4 linked regions of the Homo sapiens genome follow. The protein of the gene in region 3 interacts with the protein of the main gene of each other region in a pairwise test. Each region holds a gene or a part of one and is shown on either strand. Other genes may lie near its edges.

Region 1 (7,805 bases), on a different chromosome or scaffold from region 3:
AAGTAATGGTTGAAGAAAAAATATCAGTTTATTAAAAGAGACATGGGAAAACAAATATAACACATGACACAACTGGTTACAGGTTACAAACAGCCTCTCCTGGTTCAGGTGCCTCACCTTTCTGCAATAGCTTTAGCCAAAAGAGCTTTTTTACGTTTATTTTTCTCTTCCATTAGCCGTTGTTCTTGTTGGAGGACTTCCCAACGAGATTTTTCTTGCCTAGGGGGCAAAAAAAGCATAAAAATGAGTTTATGAAAGAAAAAGAAACTGCTACCCTATCCAACACCTTACCAGTCTCAGTCCTCTAAGTATAAAATTTAATCAAGAAGATTTATGTATATGTTCTTTCAAAAGTCCTCTTAAAAGAAACCCATCTGCAGTTCATTATTTTGCTCTAATGGGAACAAAGACTACGATCTAAAGTAAAGAGGCTTACATAAATTGGACCTCTGAAATCCATTATATATATAATCTAGGAATCCACAAACTGGAAGCCAGAATACTGTGGCATGTGTTTAGGAGTACAAAGAAATTTGTGTAAGTTAATTATGTATTATATGCAGAATGGAGATTAATAAAAATTGGTTTGTAGCTGATGTCATATTATTTATACCTTTTAGAGTTTTCTATAAAGTCTCCACCACCTTAACATGTTTCAGACAATAACCAATGTTTATTTCATATATTAATATTTTCTTTCAATTTGCTCACTTTTTCCCAACTCTTAAGACTTTTTTTTGTCTTTCTTTTTTCCTTTTTGTGGAGAACAGGGTGTCGCTATATTACCCAGTCAGGTCTCGAACTCCTAGGCTCAAGCTATCCTCCCGCCTCTGCCTCCCTAAGTGCTGGGATTACAGGTGTGAGCCACTGTGCCCAGCCCAACTTGGACATTTTTAAACAAAGTAAAACACTAAGAGCTAAGACTGGAATGCTGGGCTAAAGAAAAAAATTCAAAGATGTGAAAACATGTATTGTCTTACAATCTGTCCAATTCTAAAATAAATACATTAAAATTTCCCATAAAGTCATGAGCTTGATGTCAACTCAAATTAAACAAGGTATTGGCAAAGCTATTTATTCCTATTACTGTCACTTCTTACAGCCATTATATCACATACCTCTATTCCCAAATCTAGTAGCCCCTTCCAAAATTGTCCTTCTCTCTCCATTTCTACACCTTCCACCTTAGTGCTGGGACTGGTCATTTCTCACTTTTACTACTGCAGGCATCTCCTCACCAGGCGCCTTAGTTCCACAGCTCACTATGCACTCTCTTGCATATGATCTACAATATTGACACCTGGGATTTCTCTAACCTTTATTTTGATTGCGGCCTTTAGCCCTCAGAGAGCTTCATGGTAACTTGCTGCATTAGTGAACTTGCTAGGAAGGAAGGCATCCCCTGCTTCCGATCCTTTCTCATTTCTTTAATTCTCTACTTATTCATCCCCTGCTTCTGCTTCTGATCCTTCCTCAGTTCTGCTTTTTTTTTTTTTTTTTTTTTTTGGGACAGAATCTTGCTCTGTTGCCCAGGCTGGAATGCAGTGGCATGATCTTGGCTCACTGCAACGTCCACCTCCCAGGTTCAAGCAATTCTTGTGCCTCAGTCTCCCAAGTAGCTGGGACTACAGGCATGCACCACCACGCCCAGCTAATTTTTTTGTATTTTTGGTAGAGACAGGGTTTCCCCATGTTGGCCAAGCTGGTTTCAACTCTTGGCCTCAAGTGATGTGCCTGCCTCAGCCTCCCAAAGTGCTGGGATTATAGGTGTGGGCCACCACGCCTGTCCTCCTTCCTCATTTCTTTAATTCTCTACTGTTCTCTGGCTTATCCTTTGCCACCTCTCCCAGAGAAATGAGGTATCATCTCTGAACATTCTCTAGGACACAGCTTTCCTTTCTCCTCCTTAAAACCTCAAAATTTCTCCTTTACGTGAATGGTTTGAGGTTACAGGTCTTTTATGAAAATTCTTCCAAGTATCCAAAAAAAGAATAAGTTTCCCTATAACATCCAATCCAAATTGTCCAGCTCAATGTAAACTTACCTCCTATTTGTCTCCGGCCTTTGTTAGTAAACTACACTTAGAGACACTTTAATGTATGCACTTGTTCAATATAGGTTTCATAATTCATGTGGTTTTATAACTCTTGTCAAAATGATTTCTTAGTTGTAAACCCCTAGTGGACAGGAAACATTTTAAATTCACAGGATAGAATCTGGATCAGCAGAGATTAAAAAGATGTCAGAGATTAGAAAAAAAAAAAGATACTTTGAAAAGAACTCAGAAAAGAGAAAACAGAAAAATGTCATTCCTTCTCTGTGAGAGATAAATCAGGAGCAAACAAAGAAATAAGAGTATATATTAAAACACAAGCTATCAAATAAAAAATTCTAAGAATTTGCAAATCAAAAAATGGCATCTTCCACAAGAACAGTGTAGCTAAATTATGAAGGTTGTTTCTAATACAAAGACAGTAAAGAATAAATAAAAAGAAATCTAATGATGAACTGAGTTATATCATTAGTCCCCTAAATTTCCTACACTCTCTCCTTTGACCATCCCTTCACGTCTCTCCACAAGTTCCAATTTCTGGGCCAATGGAAATAGTCTGGAAGTTGAAAAAAGGGGTCAATTTGGGCAGAGGCACTATGCATATAAGAACTGCTTCTGAGCTGTGATTGCGCCATTGCACTCCAGCCTGGGCAACAGAGCGAGACTCCATCTCAAAAAAAAAAAAAAAAGAAAGAAAAAAAGAACTGCTTCTGCTCAGTGTAAAAGGCATAAACTTTGGATCCAGACAGACTTATCTGTAAATCTCTACTATTTACTAGCAGTGTATTAGCTTTAGAAAGGTATCATCTTTTCTGAGTCCCAGATACCTCATGTATAAAGTTTAAATAATAAACATGCATTGTAAGGCTGTTATGAAGACTAAAGAACATAAAACATACAGAATGCCTGTGTCCAGCTTATATTTAGGCAGTAGCTATTTTTCAATAGTTTATACATCACATTCCTATGATTGAATGAATATAAAGGAGAGAAAATGTTAAAATAAACAAATTATATTTCCTTAAAGCCCATTGGGAAAAAACGGGTTAAATGAAAAGTCTCATGGACTTTTCACATAGACTTACTAACAATTCCACTTTCTTTTTCTCCAATTTGCAATCTGGCTTTGGAGGTAGAATCTCAACATTGTTGTGACCATCATGGGAATTCTCAAGTCCCAGTTCCTTTGGCTGACTTTCAATGCCCTGTGGTTGTCCATCACCAACGGGGGAGGTGAGAGTGAAATGACTCGGAAGAGTAGGGGAAGAAAAAGGTGGTTTTTGAACGTTAACTCTCTGTTTTGGTGCTGAAAGCAGCTGCTCTGGAAGTAATGAGGTTGATCCATCTTGAAGCCCAAGTTTTTGGCTTTGCTCTACAAGGGCTTTTTCTCGCTGAAGTTGTTGTCGACTTTTCTTCGCGGGGAGACGTCGCTGTGGTTCAAATGGATCTATGTAAAAGAAAATAGAGGAAAATTCCTTTGTGTGGGCAGCAAATAATTATAATTCCTCTAAGAAAATAAAAAATTAACATTAAACGTTGATAATTCTAGTGGTTCTCCTACCCCATTCTCTATCTTGAAAGTCTAGGGGAAAAACAGCCATCTTCCTGTAGAGTTTCAATAGTTTTCAGATCATAATGTTAATATTTAACAGAAACTGCCCCATCTCTTAATTTATCTTCAGAGAAAGTCCATCAGTGAGTTAGGCCTTAGGTCACAAAGTGAAGTTTCTTTTTCAACTTGATTTCATAGTTGTCAAAAGAAAGCAACTAATTTTGACCAAATCAGGGAGGTGACTGAATTATCTGGTTTTAAATTTGATTTATGGTTCTGTCTGCTCTACTGAAACAAAATGGTGGTTGCATTTTCAAATGGGATTACCCTCTCTTAAATTTTAACAGCTTTTAGGGCAATTTGGTACATATGTGATACATATTCAGATGCTATAACAGGCATGTAATTGAGTGAAGTCTCTTATTTCTAGGAATGCTAGTTAACCTTAAATTGTTGTCTTTCATCCTACAGAACAATCCAAGGTTGTACTCCCCGAAGCCTAGTCAGGCTCTAATCAATGCATTCAAACTGATTTTAATAGTAGCCTCAGTAAAGCAATAGAAGATAAAACAACTGGGGGGAAATATCTTTAAAGTTATAAATAATAACACTTCTATTATACTTTTTGGACTGTCCATGCCAGTGTTAACATCTTAGGGCAGACAATTGGAGAATCTGACCCACATTCATACTATATTTCATAAGATCTATAAATAGCATTCTCTCTTAAATGCCTGGGAAGTGAAGTTATCAGTTCTTGTAAATGAACAACTCAAATGGGACTTTCAAATTTGGCATATTGACTTTTGAAGCAAAACAAGCTTATTATTTGAATTTCCCAAAGTATAGTTAAAAGCTCTAGAGTCACAATTCCAGCTTTGCTTCTGCCCAGCTCAGTGACCTCAGGTAAGTCAATTATTTATTCAATACCTTAGTTTCCTCATCTATCAAGCTGGTTGAAAATTAACCTGCTCTACTTAATGCATGAAGTTGGTGTAAGAATTAAATGAGATATGTACAGAAAATATTTTTTAAAAGACTGAAGTACTATCAAAAGCAAATGTTATTGTTGACTTTAGCCAGAAACACAAAGTATCCTGTATCTTGCAACAGGAACACATTCTTGGCTCTGATCTTTATTCACACCATCAAAAAATGTCACTTAGCCTGCTTATCTCCCTGTTGAACTCATTAGCTGAATTATTAATAGTTCCTCTGAAATTCAGGTAGTAACTTCTATTTTATTTTGCATTTTTACAGAACCTACCTATAAGACTGAAAATGCTAATTTTAAACAATAAACAATAAGCAAATCAGGCCACTTAAACACAGAACATATTGCTTCCCACACTCTGTATTAGGGGCTGCAAATATCAAGGAGACTGTGGTGAACTGAGAAGCGTAAGTCTAGTGTAAAGGGGGCAAATTCCGAGTCACCTTTAGTCAATTGCTATCATTAAAAAATTTAGGTCACCATAGCCAGATATTTTGATTTTTATGATTACAATTTAGACTTTTATGTAAAATATCTTGATTTTTAAATGTAGGGAACTGTTTCAATCAGGAAAATCTAGATTACGCTGTAGGGGCAAATCTTAGTGGTTTTAAACCACAAAGGTTTATTTTTCATTAATGCCAAGTGCCAACTAAAGGCTAACAGAGAGGTTCTGCTGATTAGTCTCTCAAGGCTCTAGGCTGACTGTACAGTCAGTATTCAGTGTTGCTGGCCACCACAACACAAGGAGAAGAGAGAGGTCAGGAAGGTCTTGCTATAGCAATTAACTGCTGACCCAGTAGTGACATAACACTTCTGCTCACAATGCAATGGCTAACCTAGTACATGGACCTACCCCCAAACAAAGGCAACAGGTATAGCTGGCTTAGCAAATAACACAATGATTATCACCATTATTAACTAAAAGAAATGTAAAGATTGGATAAAAGAAAGAGAGACAAAGAAGAAAGAAAGGAATGAAAGAGGGAGGGAGGGAAGAAGGGAAAGAAAGGAAGGCAGGCAGGAAGAAAGGAGGGAAAAAAGAAAGAAGGGGAAAGAAAGGAGGCAAAGCTGAAAAGCCACATACATTTTTGGGTTAAATTAAGCTAATGGGCTACCAGTTTGTGATATATACTCCATATCCTTTATTTAAGCCCTGCTCCCTCCACCTCAGAAAACTATCATTTGAATCATATGTTGATTATTCTCTTCCTTCTCTAATAGTCATATTGCATCTACAAATATTTCTAAAAAGTATTTACTTAGTTGTTTGACTTTATAAAAAGGGTTTTGTGCTGTACATCTGTTTTACTTAATATTACACTGTCAATAGTCATTCATATTGTCTATGTTTCAGCAGTCATTCATTTTGTTGTATAACATTTCATTGTGTGAATAAACCAGAGTCTATTGATCTTCTTCCACTGATAGACATTTAGGTTGGTTACAGGTTTTTGCTTTTGTAAATTTCAATAATGTGTCTCTTATTTTACATGTACAAGAATTTGCTTTGGATATTATCTAAGAACTACTGAGTCACAAAATATAACTTTAGAAGAAATGTGAAAATGCTTTCCAAAGTGTGCTCCCTCTAGTAATGTATAAGATCCTGTGGATGCACTTTCTCTTCAATACACGATACTGTCAGATGTTTTAATTTTTGTCAATCAAATGGGTGTAAAATAGTACCTCACTGTATTCTTGATTTGTAATTCTCTGCTCCTTGGTGGTGATGAGCATCTCTTCATATTTCCTTTTCTAGGAAATATCTATTCATGTCTTTTGTTGACTTTTCTTTTGTCTTGTATTTTTTATATATCAGCAGAAAACAATTAGAAAATACAATTAAAGAGAATATATTTCAATACCAGAAATTATTACTTATCTAGGAACAAATCTAACAAAAAGATGTTTAGTACCTCTATAGGGAAAACTCTAAAATTTTATTGAGAATTTAAACAAGTACTAAATAAACGGAGACATATACCACGTTAGTGGCAATGTTAATAATATGAAGATGAAATTGATCTAAAGATTCAATGCAATTACAATCAAAATTCCTAATGGGTTTTCCATTAAATTTGGTAAAATTATTAAAATTTTTATATGAAAAGATAGAAGGTCAAGAATACTGGCTGGGTGCAGTGGCTCACACCTGTAACTACTATACTAAGTATAGTAAGAAACTAATTTCTTAAGACATGGAAATGTTGGCTATTAAAAAAAGGTTGACATATTTGAATACATTAAAATTAAGGCCTGGAGTGGTGGCTCATGCCTGTAATCTCAGCACTTTGGGAGGCTGAGGAAGAATTTCTTGAACCCAGGAGTTTGAGACCAACCTAGGCAAAATAGCAAGATCCTATCCCTACAGAAAAAAAAAGAAGAAAGAAAGGAAGAAAACTAGCATGGTGTAATGGCACACAGCTGTAATCCCAGCTACTTGGAAGTCTGAGGCAGGAGGATCGCTTGAGCCCAGGAGTTCAAGGTTATAGTGAACTATGATCGTGCTACTGCACTTCAGCCTGGGCAACAGAGTGAAAGCCAGTCTCAAAAAATAAAATACTTTGTTCATCAAAAAGATAAAAGTGAAAAGATAACTTAAAAACTGGGAGAAGATATTCATAATGTAACTGGCAAAGAATCAGTATGAAGAATAACTCTTCTGAATAAATAATTTAACTAAAAATTGACAGCATGTGGCTGTACTGTTTTCTTCCAATTTTTCATTATGAAATAGACCATACATCAAATATATGCATGTGTTACACTCATAAACACACACACTCAGTCTTCCAACCTATATGATTAAAAAGAAAGTTTAAGAAATAAAATATGACAGTAGTAGAAGTAACTACTCTTTAAGGATAGACATAATCCTCCTTTTAGAAGAGAGAATTTATTTCCTGTCTCCCAAGTTATATGACTTGCTTTTGGTAAATAAAAGTAGGAGTGTCACATGTCATTTACTGGTGAAAGGATTTAATTGCCAATGTTCAATTTTCAATCTTCTTTTCTTCCTACTATGGTAAACTCCTACAAGACAGCACCAAAAAACGGAGTGACTGTGCAACACAGTCACCTGCCAAACCCACATTAAACATGAAACGAGTGAAAACCAAATCTTTATTTTAAACAATTGACTTATTAGGGCTATTTGTTACTTTAGCTTAACTTGTCTTAACCTGATTTCATAAATACCAATA
Region 2 (7,728 bases), on a different chromosome or scaffold from region 3:
CACTGTCTTTTGTAGGTGTTTTGTTTTGTTTTGTTTTGTTTTTGAGACGCAGTCTTGCTGTGTCGCCCAGGCTGGAGTGCAGTGGTGTGATCTCGGCTCATTGCAAGCTCCACCTCCCGGGTTCACACCATTCTCCTGCCTCAGCCTCCCAAGTAGCTGGGACTACAGGTGCCCGCCACCACGCCTGGCTAATTTTGTATTTTTAGTAGAGATGGGGTTTCACCGTGTTAGCCAGGATGGTCTCGATCTCCTGACCTCGTGATCCACCCGCCTCGGCCTCCCAAAGTGCTGGGATTACAGGCGTGAGCCACCGCTCCCGGCCTAATTCTTTTTTGAGATGGAGTTTCGCTCTTGTTGCCCAGGCTGGAGTGCAGTGGTGCGATCTCGGCTTACTGCAGCCCCCCACCTCCCAGTTCAAGCGATTATCCCGCCTCAGCCTCCTGAGTGCACCACCACGCCCGGCTAATGTTTTGTATTTTTAGTAGAGACAGGGTTTTGCCATGTTAGCCAGGCTGGTCTCGAACTTCTGGACTCGGGTGATTTGCCCACCTCGGCCTCCCGAAGTGCTTGGGATTACAGGCATGAGCCACCGGGCCCGGCCTATCCTTGAGGTTTTATGATCTGCCTGTCACTTGGACTGTCACTGCCTTCCTACACGTCAGCCCTTACCAAATCCTCCCATCTACTTTCCTTCAGTATCTGGCTACCTACCACTCTCTTCAGACTGACATTTCTAATTTGTCTCCTCCCTGACTTGGTGTCACCAAGAACTCAAATCCCTATTGGGACTCAGGTGGTCTTGTAGCTGCCCTTTGCCCCCAGGATCTGAAAAAAACAGCCCTGCAGACTGAAGCCGGAAAACTTGATATAAACTTGAAAGAACTCAGAACCACAACAGATTCTCCAGGGGCAGCCTTTGTGCCTGGAGCTGCTGCTACACAGGCCGCCCAGGAAGACCCCCCCTCCAGCTCCTGCATGCCACATGCTCTCTCCAGAAAGTAACCACAACTGGGATACCAATGCCTATGCCATCATCACAGACTTCACACCACACACCAGGAAGTCCCTGAGTGCCCCTGCTGGCCTTGTTAGGGCCCAACGGCCAGAAACCTCAACTGCTGCCCTGTAGGCTCAAAAACTGGGTTTATCAACAGCTCCATTCATCTTTGTTTTTATTTCTTTCTTTCTTTTTATTTTTTTATTTTATTATTATTTTTTTTTTTTAAAGATAGGGGCTCTCTGTTGCTCAGGCTGGAGTATAGAGGCAAGATCATGGCTCATGGCAGCCTCCGCCTCCCAGGCTCAAACGATCTTTTCACCTCAGCCTCCCAAGTAGCTGGAACTATAGGCCCATGCCACCACGCCGGGCTAATTTTTAAATTTTTTGTAGAGATGGGGTCTTTATGTTGCCCAGGCTTGTTTCAAACTCCTGGCCTCAAGTGATCCTCCTCGGCCTCCAAAAGTGCTGGGATTACAGACATGAGCCACTGTGCCTGGCCTGTTATTTTTGTTTCCTCATTAAATGCTTGACTGCTTGCATCATCCAGCAAAAATCCTTTGCTACCAAGTCTCAACAGATGGTCCCGCTGGTAGTTTATGAACACAACACAGAACAGAAAATGGACGGGGACTGTTGAGAGGAAAGAAGCAGGTCTCTGCTCTTCTTGCACAGGGGGAGTGCTGACAAAGACCCTCCCTCCCCACACTCCAGCCAGGCTCCTTAGAGTCCCCTTCTCCACTGGGCCTCACCCTGGCCTATCTAGGCTGGAACGAACACTAACATAGCTCCTAACAGCTCAAGGCCACATTCCCAGAACGATCCTAGCCCCCTCTAAAGTGCCTGCCTGAGAAGTTCAAGGCTGCCACAAGAATTTCCTGTGTGTTCCAGCCAACACCTGAGGATGGGGCCCCTGTCTCCCAGTCTCTGTGGGAGGTTGGGGGCCTGACTTCGGTAAGCCCCAGTGGCAAACCCAGATCAGTTGGTTTCACAGGGGCCAACCCTCCCTTCCCAGTTTTGGTGATTTTCTGTTTCCCTAACTCTACTGAGTCCCCACCCCTTCCCACTCCCTCACTCTCCCTTTAAACTCCAGGCACATCTAGACAAATCAGCATGGAGCCAGCTTTTTCTCATGTTGTCAGTAGTTACCAAGTAAAATCTGTTTTTTCTGCATTAACTAGTGTCTCACTGGGCTCTGCAGGGCAGCTCCTACGGTCCCTCAGGCTTGGAGGGTCACTTTAAACAATAAAAAGCAACAGGACACAAAAATCCCTGGCTGGAAAAATCCAAAAAGCAGGTCTGTTAGCAGGGCAGGCCCGGAGTGACTTCCCCTTTCTCTAACATTCCCACGTGGTCCTGCACACCACACATCCCCCCGACCCTGGGGAGTCCTGGGCCCCTTCCTGGTGGAGCAGCCTCTCTCTTGCAGGGAAAGGCCCTGGGGTACCCCAAGGCCTCCAACAGGGAGCCTGTTGGAGAAGTCACCAAGGCCCTCTGAGTCTGGGGCTCCACAGACCCTCCCCCAGGCCTCCTGCAACTCTCCAGCTCTGAGAGTCTGATCCCAGCCCAAGGACCAAGTGGGACCCTCCCCTGTGACTCTACCACACCCTCACCAGGTCAAGCCCTACTCCAGGGAGAGGCTTATCCTCCTGGTCTGGACCCCCAACCCAGTCTTGAAGCGGGATCTCTCACCGCTATCTGGAGCCCCTCATCACAGCACAGATCTTCAACCTCAGCTTTCCACAAGGAGTCTGGGGACCCCACCCCGGTCCAAAGATCCCCACCCAAGGTCCGAATTCCCCAGTTCCCATCCAGATTCCCCACCCCAAGTCCGGAGACTCCCACCCAACGTCAGATCACTTCACAGCGGTCCGAATTCCCCACACCCTATCCCAGTGTTCCACCCTAGGTCTGAAGGCCCCCGCCCCGAATCCGGCCGCATTCGGCCCCGGTCTAGCCAGCGCTCTCACCTCTCCCGCGACGGCCCGCCCGGGACTGGACCCGCCCCGGTCCGGCGCAGGCAGCGCGGCGGGCAGCCCTAGCTGCCCCAGAAGCCCCACGACGATGGCGGCAATGGCGGTGGCGCTGCGGGGATTAGGAGGGCGCTTCCGGTGGCGGACGCAGGCCGTGGCGGGCGGGGTGCGGGGCGCGGCGCGGGGCGCAGCAGGTAGGATGGGGTCGGGGCGTCCCCGCGGTAGGTGTCCGCGCGGCCGGGGTGTCCTCGTGAGGGTGTCCGCGCGGCGGTGGCCAGGGTGTCCCCGTGGGGGTGCCCACGCGGGGGTGTCCACATACCGGCCTCTTGGTCTAGTCTTGCTCAGGAGTCCGGGCTGCTTCTAGCCACAAGTAGCCCCCTTCCCAGGTGGGGAAACTGGGGCTGGGTGCCTTGTCTAAGGTCCTGCTGTGCTGACTGCACCTGTGGTCTCCCAGAGCTGGTATCCCAGTAACAACTACAGTTCTGAAGATGATGATATCCCACCTCCCGAGGTCACCAGGCACCGGCCCCACTGGCCAGACTTCCCAACTTCTCCCCAGACCCCTAGACTCTAGAGGTTAGAGGCTGCACAGAGCAATGGGAGGATACACACTCGTCCTCCTGGAGCCCCTGAAGAACAGTTAACTAAATCAGGACAATAATCATAACTGAGCACTCGAAGCAGAGGCTGGGTGTCTGGTCACTCAGGACAGTTCAAGCCTCATCCTGTAGGACAGACTCCCCTAGATCCGACCAGAGCGCCACCATATCTGTTATGTGTGGCCAGTTTCATTCCATGCACGACAACATGGTCCCCCACCATGCAGGGGGCCCCTCGACCCAGCCCCCTGGATGCTTGTGACAGCGAGCAGCTCTCCCCACAGGCAGTGAGTGTAGAGGGGTGTAAGGACGGGGTCAGGGCTCCTTCCCAGGGATGGCGGCTATGGGAGGCATGGTGGCTGGCCCTCTGCCCGCGGTGGACTCGGGAGGGAGGGCTGACTGTGTGTGTGAATGGGCAGAGTTGGTGCTATGGAGGTTTTGGGGGTCTCCAGGACGGAGGGTGGCCCAACAGAGTTCTGGGAGGCAGTCACCACCTCGTGGCCTTGCTGAGACCTGGAACCCTCAGCCAGGGCACTCCATCTTTCAAAGCTTCTTGGCTGCATGCGTCAGGTGGGCAAGCTCAGGAAGGTTAAATGCACCCGTGCTGGCGGAGTCCCATAAAAGGGGATTCGGCATCAAAAGGAGGAAAAAGGTTCAAAGGGCATTTATCATGGGGTTCAGAATCACGGATGTGAGGGGCGGTAGTGGGGACAACAGACAGAAAAGCTTCCCCTTCCCATACTCACAGTCCAGACACGGCAATAGCCAAATTCCAAATTTCTAGGTATTCTGGACTCAGAATGGGGAATATCATACGAGACTTAGGGGGATAATGCCCTTATCTTCCTATTTTAAGGGAAAGAACAAACTGAACCTTCTATGCAAAATAGGATGATGATCCTGGTCCTCCCAGTAAGAAATAAAATAAGTAGTCTCCAGGCATTCCTTTCCGCCAGAGGAGCAACTGTTTTTTAAATAGCCCTTTCGTGCCCAGTCTGTTACTAAACCATATGAGTTGTTTTTTTGGGGTTTTTTTTTTTTTTTTTTTTTTGAGACAGTGTCTTGCTCTGTCGCCCAAGCTGGAGTACAGTGGTGCGATCTCAGCTCACTGCAAGCTCCGCCTCCCGGGTTCACGCCATTCTCCTGCCTCAGCCTCCCGAGTAGCTGGGACTACAGGCATCTGCCACCACGCCTGGCTAATTTTTTTTGTATTTTTAGTAGAGACGGGATTTCACTGTATTAGCCAGGATGGTCTCAATCTCCTGACCTCATGATCCACCTGCCTTGGCCTCCCAAAGTGCTGGGATTACAGGCATGAGCCACTGCGCCCAGCCGAGTCATTTTTTAATACTACTGCATGTGAGTTAACACAATCATTCCCAAATTGAAGTTTTAGATGGGCCCTCAAAATTTTTAGGATATGGTTTTCCTACAGGTTTATATTGAAAGTATGGGGTATCTCCTATTACTCCTCTTTTTATTTGTCTTAAAGGAGAAAGGGAGAGGCCAGAGACCAAATGTCCCCATTTCCCTATAGCTAATCTCTCTGGAAGACAAGCAGCCCAGACTTGAGCTTCTAGATGGATACAACCAGGTGCATGTCCAAGGCACAGAGGAGGGTATTTATAACCCATAGTAACATTAAATGCAGTGCCTTCTCCTGGCTGAGCGGTGCAACGGTCATCTGTAGTTCCAGGCATCCACACACTATCGTTAGTATAGATTTCTGCAGGAGCATCCATCCAGGTGAGAGGTCGAATAAGTGGAGGAAAAGGCACATAAGCCCAATAAGAATAATTTTGTGTAGCAGGTAAATCAGTTTAAGGGGAAACTGGTGAGACAGAAAGTGTAAGGAAGATAATTATTAAATAAAACCTATTGTAAGTGAGATCCAGTGCTGAAGGAGGAAGAGAAGAACAGAGGGATGTTATTTTCAGGCTAATAGAAATGGTGAGATTTTTAGGTTCGTAAGGAGAAAAAGATAATTAGGAGAAGTGGGATTAGTTAGAGGGGTTTACATTGCCATTAGGGAGGATTGAACCAGACCCATTTTGATTTGGCATGCCAGTTTCTGAGGAGTCGGTACAGATCTCATCAGGTATGAGGGCAGTCTCTGACGCGAACGTCTCTTCCTCGTGGTTTTTATTGTCAGTATTCACACGAAGTTTAAGTCTCCTAGTGGGCACCCAGACGGGATTGACGATCTCCTGGTAAAACACAAGCATACCCTCTTCCCCACGTTATAATTGTTCCAGGTTCCCAGGTATTGGTTTGGGAGTTTTTCCATGACACTGGCTTGCCTTCGTTTAGGGAGAATTTTTTGCCTGTATAATGGCATTTAGCTGCAGTCAGAGTATTGTTTTTAGGAACATTTAGAAAGCTTAAACAATGCTAAATATAATTGGGAGTGGGGAGTAGTTAAATTATGCTTTTAAACCAGCCTTGTCTTCTTTTACAGTAACTTGAAGAGGTTTAGTAATTTTTTCACGTTTTGGACCGAGACCGAGTCTGGAAACAAACCCCATGTTTTCCATTATATGTTGACTGGGAGCACTGTAAAAGTTATGTGGAATATTAATTTCAGCCCCAATTTGTGCCAGCAAATCTCTGCCCCGAAGATTAATGGGGATGGGCATGATATAAGGCTGAATTGTTCCCTTTTGACCATCAGGGCCAGTGCAAGCCAAGATAAATGTGCTCTGGTGAACTTCTTCAGCTTTTCTAACACCTTCTAGTTTCATGTTAGTGGGATGTTTAAGCCAGGAGGAAGGCCATAAATTAGAGGAAATAATAGAAACATCAGCCCCAGTATCAACTAGGCCCTCAACCTTTTTTCCTTGAATGTGTATGGTGCAGGTAGGCCATTGTTTAGAAATTACATTAATCCAATAAGCGGCTTTTTCACCGCTGGAGCCCATCCCAGGGCCCCATGTCTTATCTCCTTTGTTTAAAACAATGTTAGGTAGTAAAAGTAATTGAGCAATTGACTCACTGGCCGGAATGGAAACAGGAACTTTGGCAGACACCATAAGTTTACATAAGTTTAATCTCATCAGAGGAATCAGAATTAATGAGACTAGTATGAACTATGATACCTTTAGTATCATGAGGTGGATGCCCTGCCTAACACCAGGCCCACCGAACCTTGAGGTAAAGGGCCAGTGACCCCCATGGGGACAATTAAAGGCAAAGAATTAGGTAGTAAATTTAGAGGAATGGTACTACAGAGATCGACCGCCCTGCTGCCTACTGTGGAGGTAGACAAGCATTGTACTGAGACAGAAGAAGAGGCTGGGACCCATCTGGATTGGCTGTAGGTAAATTTGTTTGTGCTGGGGGCTGCGTTGGGACTGCTTGACGCAAAAACACAACATTGGTCTGAGTCCGAGGTGTCCCATTTGATATTGGGGCCTGGGACTGGCCTTGCTTCCTGTTTCCCTGGTTCTGTGGCAAGGGATTTTCATCTATATCAGACTGAGTGGCAAGTACTTGCCCAATGTTTACCCTTACGACAACGCAGGCAAACAGTAGCAGGAGCATTTGGCCGTGTTTGTTGAGCCGGCTTGGCCGCTTTTAAGTTTTTAACAGTGTAGTTTTTTTGGGTATGACCAAGTTGGCCACAATTATAGCAGGCTCCAAGAAAAGAATCAGTCGAGCCAGTTTGGTTGCCGTGCTTCATGGCCGGTGCCCACAGAATAGCTCTGTGGGTCTCCGATCCAACGCCTTCACAAGCTTTAATATATGCAGGCAACACCTCATGATCAGGTAAATTTTGACGTAGGATGGAATGCACGGCCATTTTACACTCATGGTTCGCATTTTGAAAAGCTAACATATGAAGAAGAATACCTTGAGTGTGCTCATCAGAGACAGATTTTTCAACAGCATCTTGTAATTTAGCTAAAAAATCAAGATATAATTCATTGTGACCCTGTTTAACAATAGTAAAAGAAACAGAAGCTTGGCCTGGGGTGCGTAATTTATCCCAAGCTCTCATACACACCTTTGTTACTTGTTCCGTGGTGAGAGCATCAAAGCCTAAATGAGCAGTAGTATCAGAGTAATTATCGGAGCCTGTGAGCTGAGCCTGAGTAATTGGAATGCCATCAGCCCGATTTAGCTGAGCCTGCAGGCGGGCCTCCTCTGACCACCAGGTATG
Region 3 (7,805 bases):
ATCCCCTGTGCGGAGATCTGTGCTTTATGTCTTTGAAAGTAAGTTGTCGAGATCACAGCACTCCACCCCTCCACACCGAAGCCCGCAGCTTCTCAGGAAAGGGCAGTCTTGTGTGATCAGTGCATATCATCACACACAGGATGTCTGACACTGGCACCACGCTGCCATCTCAGAGTCCATTTCAATGCTGGGGGTCATCGGTTTTCAGCAGGTTCTTCCCTGGGTTCAACGCGTCTTCCCGCCAGAGGGATGGAATCTTGGGTGAGTGTTGAAATGCGTCAGAAACAAAAACGCAAAGTGGAACTGGAGCACGTCACAGACCTTGGACCAGAAGTGGCCTGTGAGGCACTGGAAGAGACGCCACCGTGCGAGCTGATGGTCACACAGCTTGAGGACCACAAAGCCCAGGCAAGAGAGCACCCCCAAAGCTAAGTAGGTAGCCGAGGTGGTGCTGCCATAGTGCCTGTGGGTGCGCAGCGCCTGCCCCACAGCGGCCACCACGTGAGCACCCAGTGCGACCTCGAAGCCCTGGGGATGCAGCAGAGCGAGGCCATAACTGGCCAGGGAGACGCACTCAAGAGAGAGGAACAGCCAGGGCCGCCAGCCGCGGTCTAGGTAGAGGCACCAGGCCACGGGCCATGCAAAGATGGGCAGTGTGAGCCACTGGTCCAGCACCGCGGCACGGCGCCACTGCGTCCACAGGCGCAGCCACTGCACGGGGCCATAGAGCAGGGCCATGGCTGCGAACACGTCCTTCAGGTAGCGGGGACCCAGCCCCATCGCGCCGCCCCTGTGCAGCCACGACAGCCCCAGCAGCGTGTAGGCCATGTTCACGAGTGAGTTGAACGGCATGGCCAGGAAGGCAGGGAGGCCGGCCACGGGCGCCTCGGCGTAGTGCTCATAGCCCACTTGCACGGAAACACTGTCGAAAATGCCCGTGAACACAGCCACGGCACAGAGGCCACCGGCCACGGCCACGTGCACGAAGGCCTGCCCCCACTCTGGATTCATCTGGAACCGGCGGCGTGACCTGGGGCAGGGAGCTTCAGAGAGCAGCCTTCAATACGCAGCCTCTGCAGAACACTCTGGGCCTCCCGGCTGAGCCAGCAGAAAGAAGCCCCGTGATTTCGTGATTTCCGAGGCAGATGCTGCGACCTTGCCCCGAAGGAAGGCAGGAGTCCTGCTGATTGGCTGGCGCCAGCGGAGGAACGTTCTGCCTTTTTCCTTTGTGGTTACAAAAGGAGTGTGGTTAGAAAACAAACCGTCCCCAGCACCGCCTCCATGTTCCTGACCCCCGGCCTCAGGAGCTACCAACCATCTTCACTGGAGAAGCAAATCAGAGTGAAACCGCTGCACACTGACTCTCTCAAGCCTCTAGAATCCTCTATCACCCCTTTCTCCTGGCACCTAGGAAAATCCTGCCCATCGTCCTAGTTTCCTTAAAGCCACTGCATCTACAGACAAGACCTGTCTAGCTCTGTCATTACAACTCAGAATGCGCCTTCCCATGTCAGTGTGTTATAAAAGTGGACGTCTCCAGCCCCAAAGCCCTTTTCACCAAATACCCAGCTGAACTAGAGACCATTAGATGGAGTCCGAGCTCTGGCCTCTGACACAAGGTGGGGGATGGAGGAGGAGGAGGATTCACCGTCTGCCACTCAAGCACCAGGCCGGGAGGCAAGGGGGTGACCCGCAGGCTTCCCAGGCCAGCTTCCCTGGCTCACTCGCCTGCCCTCTCCTGAAGTGCCAAGCCCCAAATCACCTTCTTTCCTCAGGCCACCATAAAGCCTTCTGTCTCCTTCAGTCACAGAACCAGAGAGACAATTTAATTACCACTGACTGTCAACTGCTTTGGGGCCACTGGTGCTGTAAGTGAGCCCTAGTAGCTGAGAAATACATTAATATGGAAGGGAGAAGAGCTTTAATGCTCTGAAAATGACTCCAATCATTAAAGCTCTTCTCCCTTCCATATTAATAAATTTCGCACTCAAGAGGGTGGGCGGGTAGGCGGGCTCAGGGAGAGAGAAGGGTGGGCTCCAGTTCCTGGTCAGCTGATGCCAGACTGTTCAAACCTTGGCTCTCCCACTTACTAACCATGTGATCTTGCACCTTAACTGTCTTGGGCCTCGGTTTGTGCACCTTTTTTTTTTTTTTTGAGACGGAGTCTCACTCTGTTGCCCAGGCTAGAGTGCAGTGGCACAATCTTGGCTCACTGCAACCTCCGCCTCCCAGGTTCAGGTGATTCTCCTGCCTCAGCCTCCCTAGTAGCGGTGATTAGAGGCGTGTACCACCATGCCCGGCTAACTTTTCTATTTTTAGTAGAGTTGGGGTTTCACCACGTTGGCCAGGCTGGTCTTGAACTCCTGACCTCAAGTGATCCACCCGCCTCAGCCTCCCAAAGTGCTGGGATTCACAGGTATGAGCCACTGTGCCCAGCCCGGTTAGCTCACCTTTGACCTAATCGCTTAGAAGTTCCAGGCCTGGGAGGGATCTTAGAAACCATCTGTGCCAGCCCCGGCATTTCACAGATAAAGAAACTGAAACTCTAGCAGTTTGACTTGGCTGAAAGTTACAGTGAGGAGGAGCAGAAACCCAGGCATGCCGCCTCCTGGCCCCAGGTGCTCTCTGCTCACCTCCCTGGAAGAAGCGCCAGGAGGGCTTCCACGTGGCTTCTTCCTTGCTTTCTGCTGCCATGGCCTGGGTATTTTTATTTAGACACGGGGGTCTTGCTCTGTTGCCCAGGCTGGGGTGCAGTGGCACAATCACAGCTCACTGCAGCCTCCACCTCCTGGGCCCAAGCTATCCTCCTGCCTCAGCCTCCCAAGTAGTTGGGACCAGGGATATACCACCACCTTGCCCTGCTAATTTTTTTTTTTTTTTTTGAGACGGAGTCTTGCTCTGTTGCCCAGGCTGGAGTGCAGTGGTGCGATCTTGGCTCACTGCAAGCTCCATCTCCCGGGTTCACGCCATTCTCCTACCTCAGCCTCCCTACCACAGCGCCCGGCCTGCCCTGCTAATTTTTGTTAAAAAAATTTTGGGCCAGGCATGGTGGCTCATGCCTGTAATCCCAGCACTTTGGGAGGCCAAGGCGGGTGGATCACGAGGTCAGGAGATCGAGAGCATCCTGGCTAACACGGTGAAACCCCGTCTCTACTAAAACAATACAAAAAATAGCCAGGCGTGGTGGTGGGCGCCTGTTGTCCCAGCTACTCGGGAGGCTGAGGCAGGAGAATGGCGTGAACCCTGGAGGCGGAGCTTGCAGTGAGCTGAGATCGCGCCACTGCACTCCAACCTGGGCGACAGAGCGCGACTCCATCTAAAAAAAAAAAAAAAAAAAAATTGTAGAGACAGGGTCTCACCATGTTGCCCAGCCTGGTCTCGAACTCTTGGCCTCAAGTGATCCTCCTGCCTTGGCCTCCCAAAGTCCTGAGATTACAGGAGTGAGCCACTGCACCCAGCTAAACCCCTCTTAAGTTGAAAGTCCAGTTCCTATATTTTCGACTTATGATGGGTTTATCTGGACATTACCCTGTTATACATCAAAAAGCATATGTAGCTGGGCATGGTGGCTCACATCTGTAATCCCAGCAATTTGGAAGGCCAAGGTGAGAGGACTGCTTGAGTCCAGGAGTTTGAGACCAGCCTGGGCAACAAAGTGAGACCCTGTCTCTACACAAAATACATAAAATTAAATTTAAAAAATAAAATAAAAATTAGCCAGGCATGGTGGTGCACCTATAGTCCCAGCTCCTCAGGAGGCTGAGGCAGGAAGATCACTTGAGCCCAGGAGATGGAGGCTGCAGTGAGCTATGGGCCACAGAGCAAGACCCTATCTCTAAAAAAAAAAAAGCTAGGCGCAGTGGCTCACACCTATAATCCTAGCACTTTGGGAGGCCGAGGCAGGTGGATCATCTGAGGTCAGGAGTTTGAGACCAGCCTAGCCAATGTGGTGAAACCCCGTCTCTACCAAAAATACAAAAAAATTAGGCCGGGCACGGTGGCTCACGCCTATAATCCCAACACTTTGGGAGGCAGAGGCGGGTGGATCACTTGAGGTCAGGAGTTCCAGACCAGTCTGGCCAACATGGTGAAACCCTGTCTCTACAAAAATACAAAAAAATTAACCAGGCGTGGTGGCGCACGCCTGTAATCCCAGCTACTTGGGAGGCTGAGACGGGAGAATTGCTTGAACCCAGGAGGCAGAGGTTGCAGTGAGCCAAGATCGTGCCATTGCACTCCAGCCTGGGCGGCAGAGTGAGACTTCATCTCAGAAAAACAAAACAAAACAAAACAAAACAAAACAAAACAAAACAAAACAAAAAATTAGCCAGGTGTGGTGGCACATGCCTATAATCCCAGCTACTCGGGAGGCTGAGGCAGGAGAATCGCTTGAGCCCGGGAGGCGGAGGTTGCAGTGAGCCGAGATCACGCCACTGCACTCCAGCCTGGGCAACAAGAGCGAAACTCCCTCTCCCCCCCAAAAAAAAAAAAAAAAAAAAAAAAAGTGGCCAGGCGTGGTGGCTCACGTCTGTAATCCCAGCACTCTGGGTGGCTGAGGTGGGTGGATCAGTTGAGGTCAAGAGTTCAAGACCACCCTGGCCAATATGGTGAAACCCCATCTCTACTAAAATACAAAAATTAGCCAGGCGTGATGGCTCATGCCTGTAGTTCCAGCTACTTGGGAGGCTGAGGCAGGAGAATCGCTCAAACCTGGGAGGCGGAGGTTGCAGTGAGCCAAGATCGTGCCACTGCACTCCAGCCTGGGCGACAGAATGAGACTCCGTCTCAAAAAAAAAAAAAGTATCTGTATATGCAGACCACTTAGCACTATTTTATTATTACTTCATTTTATTTTGTTTTTTTGAGACAGACTCTTGCTCTGTCGCCCAGGCTGGAGTGCAGTGGCGTGGTCTCGGCTCAGTACAACCTCTCCCTCCGGGGTTTGAGTGATTCTCCTGCCTCAGCCTCCTGAGTAGCTGGGATTACAACTAAAATTAGCCCGGCTAATTTTTGTATTTTTAGTAGAGACGGGGTTTCACCATCTTGGTCAGGCTGGTCTTCAACTCCTGACCTCGTGATCTACCTGCTTCGGCCTCCCAAAGTGCTGGGATTACAGGCATGAGCCACCGTGCCTGGCCTATTTTATTTTTTTATTGAGACGGAATCTTGCACTGTCTGCACTGTTGTCCAGGCTGGAGTGGTGTGATCTTGCCTCACTGCAACCTCTGCCTCCCGTTTTCAAGAGATTCTCCTGCCTCAGCCTCCTGAGTAGCTGGGATTACAGGCGCCCGCCACCATGCACAGCTAATTTTTTGTATTTTTTTTAGTAGAGACAGGGTTTCACCATGTTGGCCAGGCTGGTCTCCAACTCCTGACCTCAAGTGATCCGCCCGCCTCGGCCTCCCAAAGTGCTGGGATGACAGGCGTGAGCCACCACACCTGGCCTATTTTATTTATTTTTTGGGACAGAGTCTCGCTCTGTGGGGCAGGCTGGGGTACAGTGGCAGGATCTCGGCTCACTGCAACCTCCGCCTCCCGGGTTCAAGCGATTCTCCTGCCTCAGCCTCCCGAGTAGCTGGAAGTACAGGCGGGCCATCACGCCCGGCTAATTTTTGTATTTTAGTAGAGATGGGATTTTGCCATATCGGCTGGGGTGGTATTGAACTCCTGACCTCAACTGATCTGTCCCCCTCAGCCTCCCAAAGTGCCGGGATTACAGGCGTGAACCACTGTGCCCAGCCTATTTTATTATTTTTAATAGCATATAGAGTGACATTTTGATACATGTATATAATGTATAATGATCAAACAAGGTAATTAGCATATCCATCACCTGGAACATTTATCATTTCTTTGTGTTGGGAACATTCCAAATCCTTTCTTATAGTCTTTTGAAAATACACAAGAAATTGTAGTTAACAGTGCTCACCCTACAGTGCAGAACAGCAGGATCCATTCATGCTATGAAGCTGGCATTTTGTATTTGTTATCCGACTCCTCCGAATCTTTCCCTACTCTCTAATCTTTCCAGCTTCTAATACCCACTATGCTTCTATTTCCATGAGCTTGATTTTTTAAATATTTTACATAAGAATTAACACATACAATATTTATCTTTCTGTTCCTGGCTTATTTCACTTAACATAACGTCCTCTAGGCTCATCCATGTTGCCACAAATAACAAGATTTATCTTATTAGTTTGTTTATTTCTTTGAGACAGGGTCTCGTTCTGTCTCCCAGGCTGAGTGCAGTGGTGTGATTGCAGCTCACTGCAGCCTCCACCTCCCAGGCTCAAGTGGTCCTCTCACTTCAGCCTCCCAGGTAAATGGGACCACAGGCATGTTACCATGCCTGGCAAATTTTTAAATTTTTTTTGAAAGACAGGGTCTTGCTATGTTGCCCAGACTGGTCTCAAACTCCTAGGCTCAAGCGACCCTCTCACCTTGGCCTCCCAAAGTGCTGGGATTACAGGCGTGAGTTACTGCACCCAGCCAATAGTTTTTTATTTTTTTTATTTTTTATAGTTGGTTTTGGTTTTTTTTGAGACAGGGTCTCGCTCTGTCACCCAGGCTGGAGTGCAGTGGCACAATCTCGGCTCACCACAGCCTGCGTCTCCCAGGTTCAAGCAATTCTCCTGCCTCAGCCTCCCAAGTAGCTGGGATTATAGGCGCCTGCCACCACACCTGGCTAATTCTTGTATTTTTGGTAGAGATGGGGTTTCGCCATGTTGGCCAGGCTGGTCTCGAACTCCTGATCTCAGGTGATCTGGCCGTCTTGGCCTCCCAAAGTACTGGGATTACAGGCTTGAAACACCGCGCCCGCCAACAGTTTATTTTTAAATGGCTCAATAATATTCCATCATGTATCTATACCACATTTTCTTTACATATCAATCCACTGGTGGACACTTAGATTGCTTCCATATCTTAGCTATTATAAGTAGTACAAAGGCACGAAGAACCTACATTGGGGAAAGGATGGTCTCTTCAATAAATGGCACTGGGAAAATTGGATAAGTATGTGAAGAAGAATGAAAACTAGGCCCCTATCTCTCACCACACACAGTAATCAACTCAACATGGATTAAAGACTTAAAAGTAAGACCTGAAACTATAAAGCTACTAGAAGAGGCCAGCGCGGTGGCTCACACCTGTAATCCCAGCACACTGGGAGGTTGAGGCGGGCAGATCACTTAAGGTCAGGAGTTCTAGACCAGCCTGGCCAACACAGTGCAACCCCGTCTCTACTAAAAATACAAAAAGTAGCCGGGCGTGGTGGCGCACATCTGTAATCCCAGTTACTCAGGGGGCTGGGGCAGGAGAAATGCTTGAACCCAAGAGGAGGAGGTTGCAGTGAGCCAAGATCACACCACTGCACTCCAGCCTGGGGCGACAGAGCAAGACTCTGTCTTTAAAAAAAAAAAAAAAAAAAAAAAAAAAAAAAGGCTGGGTGTGGTGGCTCACACCTGTAATCCCAGCACACTGGGAGGCTGAGGCGGGCAGATCACCTGAGGTCAGGAGTTCCAGCCCAGCCTGTCCAACATGGTGAAACCCCATCTCTACTAAAAGTATAAAAATTAGCCAGGGTGGTGGCATGCGCCTGTAATCCCAGCTACTTGTGAGGGTGTGGCAGGAGAATCGCTTGATCCCAGGAGGCTAAGGTTGCAGTGAGCCAAGATTGTGCCACTGCACTCCAGCCTGGGTTTCAGAGTGAGACTGTGTCTCAAAAAATAAATAAATAAATAAATACAAATAATAAAATAAATAAAATAAAACTACTAGAAGAAAATGGGGAAATGCTCCAG
Region 4 (8,052 bases), on a different chromosome or scaffold from region 3:
AGCGCTTTAGCCACTTGGTCCTCCAGCACACAGCTTCAGAAATAATTTTATCACAATCAACCAAATGTATCAATTTGATTGTGATGCCACTACATGTTGTGGGTTACTAGATTATTTCCCATTGGCAAAGAGCTAAAGAAATTACCAAACCGATGCCCCCAAATTCTATCTTTGAAAGTTTTCTCACCAGGATCCCATTCTTAGTGACAATTTCTTTATCAGTCAGGGTCCAGGCAGGAGTCTGAAAATGCATCCGTTATTTTAACAGAGAGATTGGACTTGATTTTTAAAGTTGTCAGCATCAACATCAAGAGAAATTTTCATATGAAAAATGTTAACCATATGTTGAAGAACTGAAAAGGCAAAAAGAGGACACTGAGTCCTACTTATGTGATAAGAAGTAGTAACAGCAGGAAGCAGCTATCACTCCTAGGACAAGGGAACAGAGAAAAGAGAATAAAGAGAATTTACTATAGTTTAGAAATGTGGAGGAGAGACTCTATGGAGCTCAGGACTCAGATCTGAGGAAAGGATACTGGTATCTTTAAGGAAGTGCATAAGGCTGATTCTAGCAGAGTAGGAAAGCATAAACTGGAACAAGTGGGACCAACTATTAATGCCAGAGTGAGGCACTATTGTGGCAAGTGACAGACAAGAAAAGGAATCAACAGGAAGCAGCAAGTCCCTTCATCCTCTTCCAGCTTTCCAGTCTCCCTCCCTTGTTGGCAAAGCCCAATGGGCAGTCAGCTTGCAAAGAAGAAATGTAGTTTAGAGTTCTGCCCTAGATTCACAAAGCAGAGGGTGGTATGAAGTTGAGGTCAACAGCTTAATAAACTGTGGTCAAGAGGAGGCCGGGAATAGCTACTGGAGTCATGGTCCCTGATTATTTGAAACTGTTAAAGGATGTAAATGGACTTTTGGGCTTCTTTGTGCTCAGTGCCTGCAGAAAGCTATCAGAGATCACAGAAACCACCACATGGTGAAAGAAAAATACTATATTTCCAGTTGCATGCTTCTTTGCTATTGCTATTGGGATTCCAATAATCATATGCTCCTGTTTTTTCTCCACTCCCACACAGTGCAGGCAGACATGGCAAACAGTGGAAAGAAGCAAATAGTGAAAAACTCAGAGAAGTACCAAGGGAAAAACCATGACAGAAAACACATGAACAGTAGAGATGGTATTATGGGAGGTTAAAACAAAACAAAACAATGACAAGGGTGAAAAACATGCGTATTAACTAGTTTACCCTTCTGACTGGGGTACTATTGGTACTATTAGAAAGATGTTTTTATGCGATTTAGATGGTGTCCAAGTTTTCATCATTTCTAGTCAATAAATACATGGCCTTGGCTTAAGTTTGCAAATAAACATAGTAAAAAGTTTATCTACGTGGGCAAAACTAACTCGGATGGAGAGAATGGTTGGGTTAGGCACAAGATGACTGGTTAGGCCTAAATTAGGATGGAAGTGACTGGATTTACATGGTCTTGTGGCCTCAGCAGTGCTTAGCCCAGACTTCCAAACGTTCTATAATTACATGGGCTTCCACTCTTGTAAAAAGTCTTACCTAAATGGGGTGATTTGGCAATTATTAAATTTTCAAACCAAGTCTTAAAGCTGGCAGAGCCAGGATTTGAACCTATGTCTGACTGACTCCAAAGTCTGTCTGTTAACCACTACAAACATGAGGCTCCTGACTACCCTCTTCCCAATACTAAAGATTGATATCTAAGATATCTAATTAGTTGGCCTATTTAAAATAAAAATTAAAGCACATAAGGCAATTATCAACTAGTTACTATTTTCCTTAGTGGAGGAAAATTATGCTTCATTAAGAGAATAACACTAACATTATAGTCATTTAAAAATCTTGTGTTAAGACTGCTTTTCTCACATGGGCAACACCTTCCTCATTCCAATTACAAACTTTTGTGTAATGAACATTAGCAATAAAATCTGATGGGTCAAGAATAACCAATTGTGTAAGATTGGTCTTTGTTTTCCAATCTTACCCCCACAAATAAGGAATTTGTATTTCCAATCCTCACCCACATACAAGGCAAGGAATTCTATGCTCTATTGCTGGTAGGGTGAGGAGCAGTGTGGACAGGTTAAAACTTTTGTCACTTCCTAAAGATGGCATATATTTTCAGAAACCGACAAGGGCCCGTGTTCTTTAAGGCAATCACATATATGTGACCAAAGGCTATTTTAAAACTCGTTTTACGTAGCCTTCTTTATTCACTAACATGTTCTCTGCCCCTATGCTCATGCTGTCTTCTCTGAGATGCTTTTTCTTCCCTACTATATACATTTAACTCCATTTATTTTTCAAAATGCTCATTCTCCAAAATCCAGCTCATGTCCCTCTTCAACAGAGTCCCCTCTGACCTCTTCAGACCATGGCTGTTATCCACTTAGAACTGCTGTTTGATCTTTTTGTAACTATTATCATCTCAAAGGGATTTTGGAGGCTGCAGCCTAGAAAAACTGTTGTGGGCTAGTTACACGGTTTCAACTCGTTATTTACAAGGCTTGTCTAAACATGATACAATAGCATCTCCTCAAGAGAGAAATTGAACCTCTAGGCTAGAAGAATTGCTCAGCGGTTATCTAACAGACCATTCTCCTTGTCTCCAATAGGCAACTGTCCTACCCTCGGTGTTACATATTTCTAAGGTCTCTTCCAGCTCTAAAATTATGATTTTACAATTCTATCGACTAAATATTACTTCAAAAGGTGTGGAATGTATACAGAAACCATTAAATTCTCAAACGGTAACAGTTCAGTTACAAGTTACTCTGAAAGATCTGAGGCTAAGGGCTCCATTCAGGTCAGAATCACAACTGTTAACCTCGCTTACTGTCCAGTCTGTGCACTGTAGCACAGGTGACTAACTCATCCAGGACACACAGTAGGCCCGAATCCGGGACAGAAGCCTACTAGAGAAGCACTTTCTCCCAACACCAAGCCCAAGCCCAAGCCCTTCCTGGCTGCTTTATCGCCTAGAAACAAAGCTGAGTAAAACACCCCAATGCGGTACCACCCCAAGATGCCCCAGCGACACGGACCAAACGGTGATGCAGGGCAGTGACGCAGGTGCAGCGTCCACCTTGTTTTCCTCCCAGAGAAAGTCGGAGTTCTAGGCACCCGGGGACACCGAATCCCCGACGTCCTCCGGCCCGCGGCCCTCCGGCTCCGGTGCCCCCTGCTGCTCGTCGCGACCCCACTCTGGCGGTATCCGCCCCTTCGTCTCTCACCCCTGGGACACTTACCATCCCAATACCAGGCCGGTGGTCACGATGAAGCAGGTAAAGACCACCGCGATGTAGAAAAGCGGCGAGTATTCATAAAGCGTTACCAGAAACACCGCAGCCATCAGGGTCTTGCTCTGGGTAGAGCCCGGCTCCAGCCGCGGAGCCCAGCCCAGCCCGGCTGAGCCCCGCCCGCCCGGCCAGGGTAAAAGCCACTACAGTGCCCCGGAGCGGACAAACTTTGTAGGTCCGCACTTGCCTGGGGTTCTCATGAGCTAGACTTTAGGGCAGCCTCGCGGACAGCGGGAGCTGGCGTGCCAATCACGGCGCCCCCTGCCGGACACGCCACGCCCCTCCCGCTCCCGTCCCGAGCTATTGGCTACGCAGACCTGGGATGGGGGGGGCCCGACTCGCACCGCCCCCGACTCCCAGGATTGGTACCCAGCGGGCGTCTTAAGCGCTGTGGCCCAGTGGTCATTGCTGTTCCGCCGGCAAATTCTAAGTAGACTTTGGGGCCAACTCTGTGCCAGCCTTAGGCAATGTAGGTTTTCTGATGTCAGAGAGAGGCGCAGTCTGAAATCTACGTGCATCGTTTCTAAATCCTGAAACCCTGCCTATTATATCTTAGGCAAATTTGGGAGAGGGTGGAGGAGGAGGAGGAGGAGGGCGGGCATCTTGGATTCTACAAAATGAAATAACCATAAGCACAGTGAAAACACAAAAAAAGGAGTCTCTACCACAAGCAATTTATACGAGACTTGTCAGCCTTTTCAGATTGGACTTAATCATAGAGGAAAATCAGCATTGCTTATCCAAGATTCTCTTAGAAATAAAGCATCCGCTTCCTCCCACATCCCCCTCCTTTTCTCCTCTTCTTGTACTCCTCAAATTAGAATTAGCCAAACATTTGAAACTGTATTTGTTTCCACTTTAAGAATAATTTTTAAAAAACTTTTTAAATCACACAGAAGCTTTTTAAAAATTACTGAAAGTAGCTAAATGGTCACTCCCTTGTCTCAACCCTGTGAGTCAGCTCCATCAAGGTGGCCTCCCTGAAAGTCTTTCATAACAGTTCATTGACACCTCGTTGGTTTGCATTTACTCCTAAAGCCACATCTAGCCACATCAGAGAATGGGGATATGTAGTCTTATTATTCGTGAGCAGCAACACACCCTGGTACAAATCAAGAGTTTTGTTACTGAGGAGGAAAGAGAATGGACATTGGGATAGTTAACTAGTAGCCTCTGTCACACTCCTAAATCACCAGTAAAATTCGTGTTGAGAAAGATGAACTAAGTTTGTCCTATGGCCTCACATATTCCTTGGCAAATGAGCACGTAGTCTCTGGAGCAGCACTGTTTGAGAAGCTTGCTTCTACAACACAATTTTTAATTACTATATATCTGATTTGTGAAAATATATACTTTAATCAGCCCTCAACTGTTGGAGAATTTTTCATTGCTATAAATAACACTGCAATGAACATCCCTACAGCTAAAGTATTTCCTTAGGATAAATTACTAGAGGTGGAACTATGGTTTTAAAAAATGTACATTTTAAAGATTTTGTAAAAACACTGCTCTCCAGAAATGTACCAATTTGTATTCCCAGTTTTTCATCCACAGTTTTGCCATCATTTGATATTGTCACTTAACAAAAATATTGGCCAATCTGAAAGGCTCCCTTCTCCAGCAAGCCTTCCTGGATGCTTCCAAACCCTTGGGGAGATGCCTCTCCCAAAGCACCCAGTATGTAACTGTATGGGAGCCCTCTTATTTCTGGTGTGAGCACCTGCTCACTAGTGTATTTAGCCTGCTAGGAACCCAGCTCTCTGAGCACAGGAATGACACATAATTGATGTTTGTGCCACCGGTACCTAGTATATGTCGGGTAGTCATATTACTGAATTAATAAATAAATGAAATAAGCTTTTCTCCATGAGATTACTTGGAAGCACAAAGTATCTATATTAGAGTTTTTTAAAAAAAAGTTTGACTCTCAGATGAACAGGAAGAATGACTGTTCTTTATTATCTATAACTGATCTAGTTTAGCTTGAAACCCCACCCTAGACCCAGCATGGTGGCTCATGCCTGTAATGCCAGCACTTTGGAAGACCAAGGCCAGCACTTTGGGAGACCAAGGCAGGGAGATGGCTTGAGCCCAGGAATTGAGACCAGCGTCAGCGACATAGTGGGACCCTGTCTCTACAAAAAATTAAAAAATTAACTGGGCGAGGCAGAAGGATTGCTTGAGCAAGGGAGGTTGAGGCTGCAGTGAGCCACGATTGTGCCGCTACACTCCAGCCTGGGTGACACAGCAAGACGCTGTCTCAAAAAAAAAAAAAAAAAAAGCAAAGCAAGAACCTGTCTCAAAAAAGAAGAAAAAGAAAGAAGCCCCACCCTACTATTAGACGGGGTAAAAAGAGAAGACAATGTGAGCTTAAATTTATCAATAAAAAGTATCTTAGGCCGGGCATGGTGGCTCACGTCTGTAATCCCAGCACTTTGAGAGGCTGAGGTGGGCAGATAACTGAGGTCAGGAGTTTGAGACCAGCCTGGCCAACATGGCAAAACCCCATCTCTACTAAAAATACAAAAATTAGCCCAGCATGATGGCGGGCACCTGTAATCCCAGCTACTCAGGAGGCTGAGGCAGGAGAATTGCTTGAACCCGGGAGGTGGAGGTTGCAGTGGGCTGAAATTGTGTCACTGCACTCCAGCCTGGGCGACAGAATAAGATTCCGGCAAAAAAAAAAAAAAAAAAAAAGTATCTTAGACTCTTCAAGTTTAATTGCACCTTTTAGGAAGCTGGTCTCCTTTAGGAAAATGTTTAGTCTCTCCTCTCTCTTCTCTTGATTCTTCCCAAGACAGTATCTGATTGTACAAGGTGTTCATATGACCTGATGGTGGAGGTCAGGAAAATGAGACCTCAGCTCTGCATGACACCTGTAGGTCCTCACTAAGGGGAAGCGGGTTTCATCTGGCTTTTTGTGGTACCAGGCCAGCCCTCACTGCGGAGATCCAGGGTTCCAGCCATTTACCTCTGGTTGTAAAACCCTCATAAGCTATGGCTCCTTAGCTCCACTAGCTCACCAGACTGCTTACCATCTCCAATGTTACTTACTGGGGCAATATGTAAACATGTAGATTCTCACATATGTCACATGCAGGCTACTGAGAAGCAGCAGTTATCTCAGGATGCCCAATCAGGCTACCTCTGCCACTGAATGCCATTGCTCTAGCACCATGGTGAAGGTGGTGTGAAGCAAGCCAAATGTAAGGCCTCTCCTCCTTTCCTAGAGGGAAAGTGGACTACCAGCTCCGATCTCTTCAGTTTCTCCAGTACCCCACCTATTTGTTTTTTAATTTTTTTTTTTTTTTTTTTTTGGAGACAGAGTCTCATTCTGTCGCCCAGGCTGGCGTGCAGTGGAGCAATCTTGGCTCACTGCAACCTCCACCTTCTGGGTTCAAGAGATTCTCCTGCCTCAGCCTCCCGAGTAGCTGGGACTACAGGCACCCGCCATCATGCCTGGCTAATTTTTGTATTTTTAGTAGAAACGGGGTTTCACCACATTGACCAGGCTAGTCTTAAACTACTGACCTCAGTGATCTGCCCGCCTTGGCCTCCCAAAGTGCTGGGATTACAGGCGTGAGCCACTGCACCCAGCCCCAATACCCCACCTATTTGGGTGCTTCCGCTACAACCACCTGCTTCCCTGAGATTCCAGCCTGGAGGGATGTGGGGACAAAACTGTCTTTATTTTATTTTAATTTTTGAGACAGGGTCTTGCTCTTTCACCCAGGCTGGAATACAGTGGCATGATCACAGCTCACTGCAGCCTCAACATTCTGAGCTCAAGTGATTCTCCTGCCACTGCCTCTCAAAGTGCTGGGATTACTTACTCTTTATGTAGAAACATCGCTGGAAAAGATGGTCCCGATGCAGACCCTAAGAGCAGGTTCTTGGATCTCGTGTAGGAAAGATTTTGAGGCGAGTCAGAGAGAACAGTGAAATAAGCAAGTTTATTGGAAACTACTCTGTTACAAAGTAGGAGTCTTCAGCAGGAGAAGGAACATTCCATTCTTTTTTAGTGCCTCTATACTTATAAGAAACTAAAAGGAGCAATATTAAACTTGGAACATGCAGATGTGCTCACTAAAGGTAGGGGCTATTGGTGTTACAGGTGACCATTAATCAATCCTTCAACCCAAGCCTCTTAGTTAATGGTATCTTTAAGCAAAGTGGGCTGCACTCTTAGGACATCTGGGCATTCTGAAGGCTTGGTGGGAGATGCTCTGTATGGTTATAAATACTCTGCATTTATAAGTGGTGGTCAGCTTGAGATGTGACTATTTTCGACCAGAAGTATTAACCTTATAAGCCTTGTGAGTGCTTAGTTACTCACTCAAGATGGAGTCCCTCTGTTCATGCATTATTAAACCAGAGGCCTGAAAAGCAGGGGTTTCTCTAACAGGAACATCTATTCATTTTAAGTTTCCTCCAAAACAACCCTTGTTGTTACAGAAATCATAGGCTCTCCTCTGACACCCATAGCCACCTACACATTCCTTCCAGAGCACATATGCTCTTTTCCCAAGATATAAGCCCTGGGTCTGGGGTGTTGTAGTGCGAAGATCTAATTGTCTTGCGGCTGCCCAAGACAACATTTCTGTCTGTAAGTTTCCCTAATAAATCACATAAAACCAACAAACTGGATTTGTCTGCCTCCTTCTTTGGTTTCTCTGCTCCTTCAGCTTTTTATGGCCTTTTCACGGAACAAGGCGGAAGCC

What was found.
Region 1: the proteins of TMEM187 (region 3) and GORAB interact in binary tests that used the Homo sapiens proteins (3 or more experiments, as listed by UniProt).
Region 2: the proteins of TMEM187 (region 3) and COMT interact in binary tests that used the Homo sapiens proteins (3 or more experiments, as listed by UniProt).
Region 4: the proteins of TMEM187 (region 3) and CGRRF1 interact in binary tests that used the Homo sapiens proteins (3 or more experiments, as listed by UniProt).

What each region holds. Positions count from the first base shown.
Region 1 is NC_000001.11:170,534,905-170,542,709, reverse strand, and holds part of GORAB (RAB6-interacting golgin), read right to left. Parts: intron 6,401-7,805; exon of another isoform or gene 6,289-6,400; intron 3,501-6,288; coding exon 3,143-3,500; exon of another isoform or gene 3,139-3,142; intron 220-3,138; coding exon 118-219; intron 1-117.
Region 2 is NC_000022.11:19,937,137-19,944,864, reverse strand, and holds the start of COMT (catechol O-methyltransferase), read right to left. Parts: upstream 3,062-7,728; 5' UTR 2,968-3,061; intron 1-2,967. Other genes in the region: endogenous retrovirus group K member 24 Gag polyprotein-like, read right to left, coding at 7,039-7,728; TXNRD2 (thioredoxin reductase 2, mitochondrial isoform 5 precursor), read left to right, coding at 3,062-3,164. UniProt on the Homo sapiens protein: Catalyzes the O-methylation, and thereby the inactivation, of catecholamine neurotransmitters and catechol hormones. Also shortens the biological half-lives of certain neuroactive drugs, like L-DOPA, alpha-methyl DOPA and isoproterenol.
Region 3 is NC_000023.11:153,975,269-153,983,073, reverse strand, and holds part of TMEM187 (transmembrane protein 187), read right to left. Parts: intron 1,978-7,805; exon of another isoform or gene 1,897-1,977; intron 1,225-1,896; 5' UTR 1,012-1,224; coding exon 226-1,011; 3' UTR 1-225.
Region 4 is NC_000014.9:54,505,292-54,513,343, reverse strand, and holds the start of CGRRF1 (cell growth regulator with RING finger domain protein 1), read right to left. Parts: upstream 3,439-8,052; 5' UTR 3,385-3,438; coding exon 3,281-3,384; intron 1-3,280. UniProt on the Homo sapiens protein: Able to inhibit growth in several cell lines.